3 linked regions of the Homo sapiens genome follow. The gene in region 1 interacts genetically with each later gene. Each region holds a gene or a part of one and is shown on either strand. Other genes may lie near its edges.

The links.
Region 2: changes in TRAPPC9 (region 1) and SLC30A5 together harm fitness more than expected from each alone (negative genetic interaction), as found in Homo sapiens cells (one large-scale study listed by BioGRID).
Region 3: changes in TRAPPC9 (region 1) and MAN2A1 together harm fitness more than expected from each alone (negative genetic interaction), as found in Homo sapiens cells (one large-scale study listed by BioGRID).

What each region holds. Positions count from the first base shown.
Region 1 is NC_000008.11:139,730,485-139,733,744, forward strand, and holds part of TRAPPC9 (trafficking protein particle complex subunit 9), read right to left. Parts: intron 1,719-3,260; coding exon 1,495-1,718; intron 745-1,494; coding exon 577-744; 3' UTR 1-576. UniProt on the Homo sapiens protein: Functions as an activator of NF-kappa-B through increased phosphorylation of the IKK complex. May function in neuronal cells differentiation. May play a role in vesicular transport from endoplasmic reticulum to Golgi.
Region 2 is NC_000005.10:69,097,014-69,100,513, reverse strand, and holds part of SLC30A5 (proton-coupled zinc antiporter SLC30A5), read right to left. Parts: intron 1-3,500. UniProt on the Homo sapiens protein: Together with SLC30A6 forms a functional proton-coupled zinc ion antiporter mediating zinc entry into the lumen of organelles along the secretory pathway.
Region 3 is NC_000005.10:109,818,927-109,822,426, forward strand, and holds part of MAN2A1 (alpha-mannosidase 2), read left to right. Parts: intron 1-742; coding exon 743-961; intron 962-1,293; coding exon 1,294-1,416; intron 1,417-3,500. UniProt on the Homo sapiens protein: Catalyzes the first committed step in the biosynthesis of complex N-glycans. It controls conversion of high mannose to complex N-glycans; the final hydrolytic step in the N-glycan maturation pathway.

The DNA.
Region 1 (3,260 bases):
CGGGTGGAGGGCCTCTCTTGGCATCAACCATCCACGACCTCCTACGGCACCATCTCTCCTGCCAAGTTGCCCATGGGGGTCTCCAGGAAGAAAACCAGCCTTGGGGGATTCCAAGGCCCAGGGAGGGTGGGAAGCTGCCCACGCCCTCAGGCTGTGCCCAGTCTCATGCTCACCATTTCTTTCTATGGCCAAAGGGAAGTCGCTGGACGAGGGAGGTCCCTCTGCTGGGATGAGCAGCACAGCACGGCTGGGGCCCCAGGTCACAGAAATGGGTGCAGGGATCCTGGGACCTGGGCTGGATGGGCACCCGCTTTGGGATTTCCTCTGCTTCAGCCTGTGTATGGTCCAGGGAACAGTGTAGGAAGGGGCGTGGCATGGGGTGGGGCTGCCATGTCCGGGGCTTCTGCGTAGCCCAGCAAAGATGCTACAGGAGGAACAGGAGGAGAGGGCTGGGAGGGGTCTGGGGGAGGAGGAGGAGATGGGGCTGCAGTGAAGGCCTTGCTCATTGCAGGGGGTGTGGGAGGCCAGGCAGGGTCACCTCTGGCCCTGCAGAAAGAGGGACGGAAGTAGGCGGGCTCAGGCCTGCGCCTCCAGGGCACACACGTGCACACTGGGCAGGCAGAACCAAGAGGGTGGCAGCTCCTTGCTGGTGCTGTCCTCGTGGAACCGGATGTGGAGGAAGAAGTCTCCCGTGTAGAGGAAGAGGAGGGCCCCGAGGCAGGCCGACTGGCCGGACGGCTGCACCTGAGCAGGGAGGAGAAAGACACATCAGTCTGGTCAGCAGCAGGGGCCACCCAAAGCCACCAGGAATCCTGGGAATCTGCCTGGACATAGGTGTTATGGGGGAAGCGAGGGCCGCCCAGGCCTGGCTCCAGTGCCCCCTCCAGCAGGTCACTGCGCCTCTCCGAGCCAGTTTTCATCTTGGAAAGGAGCTGCCAATATTCCCATTCCTGAATTGTTTGGGGGCTCAGGGGGTCAGGAGTGTGGGAGGGTCAGGAGTGTGGGAGGGAGTGAGGGAGAGGTTGGGGCAGAGGGGAATGGAATGTTAGCCTGTGCTGGGGCCTGACAGTGAGGTGCTGAGAGGCAGCTTGAGAGGTAGGAGGTGGGAGGTGGGGGCTGAGGGCGTAGGGCTGGAGCCTTTCCGTGGAAGGAGCGGCAGGCACGGGATGGGTGACAGTGACATCACAGTGATGCCACAGCAGGGTCCAATCATGGAGCAGCCCCCTGTCCTGGGCACAGCTCCCATTCCCTGCACATTTTCCTGCTTCACCAACCCTGAGGGCCTCACTGTCCAGGACTGAGAGACAGGTGAGCTTGTCTAAGTTCCTGCAGTGAATGGGGCAGACTCAGACTCAGTGTGCACACGTGACCACAGAACCCCTGCTGCTATCGTCTGCTGGACATATGCTGACCCCAAAGCCCACCACCCAGGGAAGGGGGGATGATGACCACATGGCCAGAGGCTCCCAGACCGCCTTGCACACCACCACGCACCGCGTCGAGGTAGAAGGTGCTGGAGCCCACGAAGGAGACGGTGTCGTGCAGGTCGTAGTTGTGCACGCCGTTCTGGTGGTCCTGGAAGGGGACCACAGTGAGGGCGAAGGGCCCTACGCTGCGCGGGCTCCGGTTGGTCAGCCGCACCTCCAGGCGCACGGGGTCGCCCACCTGGCAGGCCGCCACAGCCTCGCGGTCACATGGCTGTCCGTCCACCAGCACATCTGTAAGGGACACGAGACTGTCGGGGGCTGGGCTGGCCTGCACGGCCCAGCCGGCCTACCCCACCCACTCGCTGATTCATTCATTTCTTCCCTCCTTCACTCTTCAAGGCTGCCACCCACTCCCTGCCAGGCTGGACACTGGGGACACAGATGTGTGACCAGTTCCTGGTCTCCGGAAGAGGAACCTGGCAAAGACGGGTGTGGTGGCTAGAGCTATGACTCAAGGGGTCTGCACCCCAATGGAGGGGCCTCTGGGAGGGCCTCCTGCCACAGCCCACCTAGAAGGGGAGGAGCTCTCTAGTGAGTCAGGGACTCCTGTCCAGGTGAGAGTCTGACACCGTAGAGGCGAGGGCGTGGAAGGGGCCCTACAGGCCCTAAAGTGCCGCAGGTCAGGGGTCAGGTGAGCTTTGGGGCACAGGCAGGCCCGAGGTCCCTCTCCTCCAGTGGCTGCAAGACCACACACCCCAGGAGGTGGTGTCTTGATCTCGTTCCCCAGGAGGAATGCACAGTGGGCTCCAGCACTCCCTATAAAGTGGCTGCACTGTGTTTTCTTCATTCTGTCAGCCTGTCCAGGGTGCCTGACACACAGCTCAGCACAGAACAGGTGCTCAGGGAAGTGGCACGGTTCTGGGACCCGTGGACCCTGCCAGGCAGGGAGCTGGTCCTGGGCGAAGGAGCATGGATTCATCTCCTCTTCCCTTCCTTGCTTACATGCCCCAAGAGCTTGCAGACAAGGAGGACGCCTCCTAACTGGGCAGCAGCAAGGAAGGAGGCTGAGGTCAGGGTGGGGTGGGGGCGGAGAGAGTGTGCCCTCTCTCAGGGAAGCGAGCTGATGATCAGGGTGGCAGGTTTCATGGTGATCCCCAAAAGATACGTGAGAATGTGACCGTATTGGGGAAGGGGAGTCTTTGAAGATGTAATTAAGTGAAAGGTCCCGATAGGAGCTCATTCTGGATTAGAGTGAGCCCTGTAGTGAGTGACAATGTCCTTATATGGGGCAGAAGAGGAGGAAGCACAGACAGAGACAGAGGCTGAGACTAGAGGATACGGGCAGGAGCCAAGGAGCCCTGGGTGGCTGGAGCCCCTAGGAACTGAAGGAGGGAAGAATAAGCCCCCAGAACCTCCCATGGTCCTGCAGCACCTTGGTCTCAGCCTTCCTGCCTCCAGAACTGAGAACACACATCTGTTGTTCAAGTACCCAGTTTGTGGTCGTTCGCTGTGGCAGCCCTAGCAGGCTAAGATGTGGGGTGGGGGGCCCTTCCTGCTGGGCAAAGGCCACCTGCTGTGGCCCTGTTGTGGAGGTCCTGGAAGTGGGAGGTCCCGCAGCCTGCAATTTGACTTCATGTCATCCAAGTACAAACTGCGTGGCCCTGGGAGCCAGCCTGAGCCCCATGGTCTGCCGTGGCTGATCCTGTGCTGTGGGCTATCAAGGCAGGCAGGTGGAATAAGGATGACATGATGGTGACACGCATAGGGAGAGCAGGTGGGCCACAAGAGCACTCCCACCCCTTCTGCCCCTTAACACAGTCACGGGCATCCTGG
Region 2 (3,500 bases), on another chromosome or scaffold:
CAGGTGTGAGCCACCGCGCCCTACTGTTAACATTTTGAGGCCAGGTGCAGTAGCTTGAGACCAGCCTCCGCAACGTGGCAAAAGCCTATCTCTACAAAAAATACAAAGAATTAGCCAGGCATTATGGTGCGTGGTAGCAGTCTCAGCCACTCGGGAGGCTAAGGTGGGAGGTTGAGGTTGCAGTGAGCTGTGTTCGTGTCACTGCACTCCAGCCTGGGCGACAGAGTGAGACCCTGTCTCAAAATACAAACAGGCTGGGCGCTCATGCCTGTAATCCCAGCACTTTGGGAGGCTGAAGTGGGTGGATCACCTGAAGTCTGGAACTCAAGACCAGCCTGGCCAACATGGCGAAAACTCACCTCTACTAAAATACAAAAATTAGCTGGGCGTGGTGGCGGGTGCCTGTAATTCCAGCCACCTGGGAGGCTGAGGCAAGAGAATCGCTTGAACCCGGGAGGCAGAGGTTGCAGTGAGTCGAAATTGCACCACTGCACTTCAGCCTAGGTAACAGAGCGAGACTCTGTCTCAAAACGAACCAACCAACCACAACATTTTGGTATACATACTTCTGGTTTCTTTTCAATGTATATGAATGATTATGTATAGATACAGTTTACTTTAACAAAAGATGCCCAATGAAAAATGAAAATTTTGTTGATCGAGTTGCTGGACTATTTTGTTATCTGCTTTCTAACTTAATAACTCCTCCAAACAAATAAGGAGAACAAAATAAAAACTAAATTCTGTTATGAAATGAAAAGACCACAATATAGGAAGAAACGGAAGAATGGTAAATGCCTTTGGTTTGCGCCTCCTTGGCCTTGTTAAGTGACTACAGTGAGAGTTGTGGTTGAAAGGTCAATTGACTGGACCTAGAGTCCTAAAAAGGCTCAGGAATTGGAAACACCTCAGGAGGGGAATGAGAAGCTGAAAAGACGAGGATCTCTAGGAAGTCTTCCAAGTAATCAGATCCCCAGGTTCCCACCCAGCAGGCAGGCAACTATCTCTCCTCAACCACTATAGGAGTCACGAGTCTTAGCCTCTGGCGAGGTCACTTAAATTTCCTGAAGTAGACAACTCTGCTGGCTTTATAAGAGAATGTCCATGTTTTTAGGAAAAACAAGGATTTAAGGATAAAGAAGCATGAATTATGTAACTTATTCTCAAATAGTCCAGGGGAAAAAAATACCTGTGTGTGTGCATTCAGAGAGAATAATAAATTACACAGGACGATACATTAACAATTACGGAGTCCAGGTAAAGAATATACTACTCTTGTGACTTTTAGGTAAACAGGAAATTATTTTTAAATGAGTAGTTTAAAAGTGTTATTTATTCAAGAGTGTATTGTCTCAGGTAGGGAAATGTGGTAAACAATCCTTTGCTATTTTATTTGTACTATTTACTTAGCAGAGTTACCCTTCTATTGTAGTTTATTGCAGAATCAATCAAATGCAACTCAGGACTGGTTGAATTTTGATGGATTCCAGGTTGCAAGAGTTTTACTTTATACAGACCAAAAATCAAATACTAGTTATAATCTGCAACAAAAACTAGTTGACAAGTCCTTTAATTGTGGGTATTTTTATGCCTAAATTCACAAATATGGATTATTTTAAACAAAGGTTTATTTTGGTTTAAGTCCTCTTTGCGGGGAAGGGCAGAGGGTCACAGTTAACATTTGTTGAGCACCTGCTATGTTCCAAGTGCTTTGAATATATCATTTCATTTAATTCTTACAACAGTCCTACAAACTAAGAAGTGGTATCCTTGTTTCACAAAACTGAGTCGTAGAAAAGTAATTTGCCCAAGGTCACACAACTAATAAATAAGCTGGTAGTCCGAGTTGTTTAAAACCCCATGTATAGTGCCTTCTACATAGTAGATACTTGAGTATTTATTAAATGAATTGAACTTGAATTACACACTGATTTTTATTTTTTAGCCAGAGAACTGTTGAGCTACTGCAGTAGGCAAAGCCCAAGAGGCAGGTTTGAACCTAAATCCAGATTTCAGTAATTCCATGTTTAGAGAACCAGGGAATTTTCTTTGATTGAACCCCCGGGTTCAAGCAATTCTCCTGCCTCAGCCTCCTGAGTAGCTGGGATTACAGGTGCCTGCCACCATGTCAGGCTAATTTTTGTATTTTTAGTAGATGGGTTTTTGCCATGCTGGTTGGCCAGGCTGGTCTCATACTTCTGACCTCAGGTGATCCACCCACCTTGGCCTCCCAAACAAAGTGCTAGGATTACAGGCATGAGCCACCGCGCCTGGCGAGAACCAGGGAATTTTCTAAACCTTCACAGAAAAGTCCAGTGATAACCTTTGACAAGACTAGTTAATGGGAAATAATGGTTTATAAATTGGGGGTGTGGGGGGATGGGCCAGGCATGGTGGCTCATGCCTGGGAAGCCTAGGCAGAATGATTACTTGAGTCCAGGAGTTCAAGACCAACCTGGGCAATACAGCGAGACCCCGTCTCTCCAAAAAGTTTTTAAAAATTAGCCTCCCTCTCCTCTCCTCTCCCGTCTCCACGTCCTGATAAATCGACGCCATTGTTTTTCCTTCATAACATGAACTAGGAATGTCTGCTTATCAATATAGGTTACTTAGCCTGGTTTTTCATCTTTAGCCCAACAGTTCATTAATTGGAACTTTAAAAATCAAAGAATCCAGGCCAGGCATGGTAGCTCATGCCTGTAATCCCAGCACTTTGGGAGGCTGAGGTGGGACGACTGCTTGAGCCCAGAAGTTCGAGATCAACCTGGGCAACATAGCAAGACCTCATCTCTACTAAAAATTAAAGAATGAACTGGGCATGATGGTGCACATCTGCAATCTCACATACTGGGACCTCATCTCTACTAAAAATTAAAGAATGAACTGGGCATGATGGTGCACATCTGCAATCTCACATACTGGGGAGGCTGAGGTGGAAGGATTGCTTAAGCCCAGGAGTTTGAGATTGCAGTGAGCCATGATTATTTTACTGCACTCCATCCTGGGCAACAGAGGAACTGAACTTGTCAGAAAGAAAAGAAAGGGAAGGGGAAGAAAGGAAGGAATGAAGGAAGGGAAGGAAAGAAAAAGAGAAGAAAGAGCAGGGCGCAGTGGCTCACGCCTGTAATCCCAACACTTTGGGAGGCCCAGGCGGGCGGATCACGAGGTCAGGAGATCGAGACCATCCTGGCTAACACGGTGAAACCCCGTCTCTACTAAAAATACAAAAAATTAGCCCGGCGCGGTGGTGGGCGTCTGTAGTCCCAGCTACTCGGGAGGCTGAGGCAGGAGAATGGTGCGAATCCGGGAGGCGGAGCTTGCAGTGAGCCGAGATCGCGCCACTGCACTCCAGCCTGGGCGACATAGCGAGACTCCGCCTCAAAAAAAAAAAAAAAAAAAAAAAAGAAAAAGAGAGGAAGGGAAGAAACAACTAAAATCTCTAAGGGTGTTTTTTGTGTTCTGTTTTTTTCTAGTACATATACATTTACTTTTTTTTTGTT
Region 3 (3,500 bases), on another chromosome or scaffold:
AGGACCCTCTGGGGATAACAAAATCTATGGATGCTCAAGTCCTTTATATAAAATGGCATAGTACAGATGATCCCTGACTTACAATGGCTCAACCTAGATTTTTCAATTTTATAATAGCGTGAAAGTAATGTGCATTCAGTAGCAACCGTACTTCAAGTACCCATACAACTATTCTATTTTTCGCTTTCAGTATAGTATATAATAAATTACATAAGCTATTTATATTTAGTATAAAATATGATTTGTGTTAGGTGATTCTGCCCAACTGTGGGCTAATTTAAGTGTTCTGAGTACATGAAAGGTAGACTAGGCTAAGCTATGATTTTGGATAGGTTAGGTGTATTAAACACCTTTTTGACTTACGATATTTTCAAATTCTAATTGGACATAACCCAATCATGAGTTGAGGAGCATCTGCATTTGCATATAACCTGCACACATCCTCTTGTGTATTTTAAATCATCTCTAAATTACTTGTAACATCTGATACAATGTAAATGCTATGTAAATAGTTATTATACTATAGTTTTTATTTGTATTTTTTGTTTTTTGTTTTTTTTTCAAACATTTTTTATCTGTAATTGGTTGAAACTGTGGACATGGAACCTGTGGATATGGAGGGCCAACTGGATTCTCTTTTTAAAAAATATGATAGTTTGTTGGTTTTACCAAAAATATAAATGGTTTGCCTCTCAGTAGATAACATTTATCTTTAATAAATTCCCTTCCCTATCTTTTAAAGATCTCTTTTCGAGCACATATACCGCCATTGGGACTGAAAGTGTATAAGATTTTGGAATCAGCAAGTTCAAATTCACATTTAGCTGATTATGTCTTGTATAAGAATAAAGTAGAAGATAGCGGAATTTTCACCATAAAGAATATGATAAATACTGAAGAAGGTATAACACTAGAGAACTCCTTTGTTTTACTTCGGTTTGATCAAACTGGACTTATGAAGGTATGTTCTGAATAGTTCTAAAATTCATAGAATGCTTATCATTTTTGCTACAATGTGTGTAGATTAATTAGGCAAAAGGGGAAAAAAGTCTTAAGTAGAGCTGTATCAAATACTCTTGAGTAAAAGGAAGCATGAGCTTTTTGCACCTTCATTGACCACTTGCTGCTCACATGTATAGTCTGTGGGTGGCGCTACTCCGTGGTCTGTGTGTCACTGGTCCACCAGATAAGTACAGAAATTATTTTTTTAAATTGTCATATACATAGAACCAGATGCAACATGCTTAACATCTTAGTGGTGAGTTGCTTATTATTATTTTTTTTAATCTTTAGCAAATGATGACTAAAGAAGATGGTAAACACCATGAAGTAAATGTGCAATTTTCATGGTATGGAACCACAATTAAAAGAGACAAAAGTGGTGCCTACCTCTTCTTACCTGATGGTAATGCCAAGGTAAGTGGTACTGATGAGATGACAAATGGAATAAACACTTATTGAAAGAGTATTGAGGAAAAAGATAAGTGAGTGTCATTATTTTATCATCTGTTGATTTATTAGGGATAGATGAACTTTTGGTTGCAGTATTATCTATCACCTTATTGATACTTAGCAATTTGTAGTCGAAAGTTAGATAAATGGTTGGGCGCAGTGGCTCACACCTGTAATCCCAGCATTTTGGGAGGCCAAGGAGGGTAGATTGCTTGAGCTCAGGAGTTCAAGACCAGCCTGGGCAACATGGCAAAACCCCTTTTCTACAAAAAATACAAAAATTAGGCATGGTGGCCTGCACCTACAGTCCCAGTTACTCAGGAAGGCTGAGGTGGGAGGATGGCTTGAGCCCGGAAGGCAGTTGCAGTGAGCCAAGATCACGCCACTGCACTCCAGCCTGGGTTGACGGAGCAAGACCCCGTTAGATAAATAGTTTTTTAGAGTTGGAATTTGTTAAGATGCTACAATGAACAATGTTCAGTTAGGATAAACAATGAACATGGGAAGAAACTAGATTTTACGTAGAGTTAGGGAGCTTTATATGTATGCATTTTATACAGACACAAAACCTCTAGCCGTATGGGAAAAATAGATTTTCCACTGGACCATTTTTCTCCTTAACTTTCAGCCCTTTAAAAAACAAATCTTTCTCACTCTTGACTATAAAGGTAGTAATACGCAAACTCTGGCACATTTTGAAAATGCCAGAAACTAAAGAAAACATTAAAATTTACCAACAGGTGCACAATCCCATGAAAACCATTGCCAACATTTGGATGTATTTCTTATTGTCTTTTATTTTATGCATATCCTTTTCTCCCCGTTCTCAAGTCTTGACTTATTGCATGTACATATTTTGTTTTTCATTTGTGACAGTGCTCACAATCTGATGGTATGTTTTTTAAAAATCCAATTTTAATATATACTGTTGTGTTTAAGATGTTGCTTATATTCTTTTTCTCCCGATTCTTCACTACCATAACATTGTAATAAGCTTTCTTTGTAGCATTCAAAAAGAATGCTACAATGCAATTCTGATTAATTGCTGAGAATAACTTTCTAGAAGAGTCATTTTGTATCAGTGTCTGAAGTCTTTTAAGGACTTTTGCTGTGTACTGCTTATCTTCCCTCTAGAAAGACTAGGTAAATGTTCAATCCCACCAGCATTTTTTGAGATTAACTCTAAAATCCCACTCCAAGCACTGAGAATTGGCCATATTACAAGCTTTGCCTATAATAGTAAGTTAGTAGAAAAATATTTTTCTGTTAAGATTTTTGTGGTTACTAGTAAGGTTGAACGTTTTTGTACCTTCATTTATCTTTCATATTTCTTTTGTGATTTTCCTATTTCTATTCTTTGACTGTTTTTCTGTTGGTGTGTCCTGATGATCTCTGAGCACTCTATATGTGGTAAAATTAATCCTTTTCCCTATATGTTGTAAAATTTTTCTTATTGTGTCATTTAGTTTGTTAATTATTTTATTGTATTTCTCATTTATAGTGGTTTTAAATTTTTGTGTAGTCATTTCTTTTTTTTCTGTAGAGTTTCTTCCTTTGCTTTTATACCTTTATAGGTTTTCTATACCTCAAGATCAGTGAAATGTTATCCTAATTATTGTCTTGTTAGCTAGGGACCTATCTCCTGAAAAAGTTACTTTTGTTCCACAAGTTATGAAACCTGCTAACTAAAATCCAATACTGGATTTTAAGGGATTGTGTAGGCTACAGTAAGGACTCTAGGTTTTTTGTTTGTTTTTGTTTTTGGTTTTTTTTTTGGCTGTTTGGGGTTTTTCTTTTTTTTTTTTTTTAAGTCAGTGAAGAATTAAAGACAAACTACAACTCATATGAGGCATTCCAGGATGGGCAGTGAGTCCCAAATATGAGCTGTTTCAGTGTTTTCTCATTCACCAGCTTTTGTCATTGGACATTTTATTTTGATTGACTGTATTTATACTTAAAAAAGTAGTTGTGCTATAGAATTTCATGCGTAGATACCAATAACTAATTTATTTAAAACCATTTTATCTTTAAATAGCTCTAATGTCAGA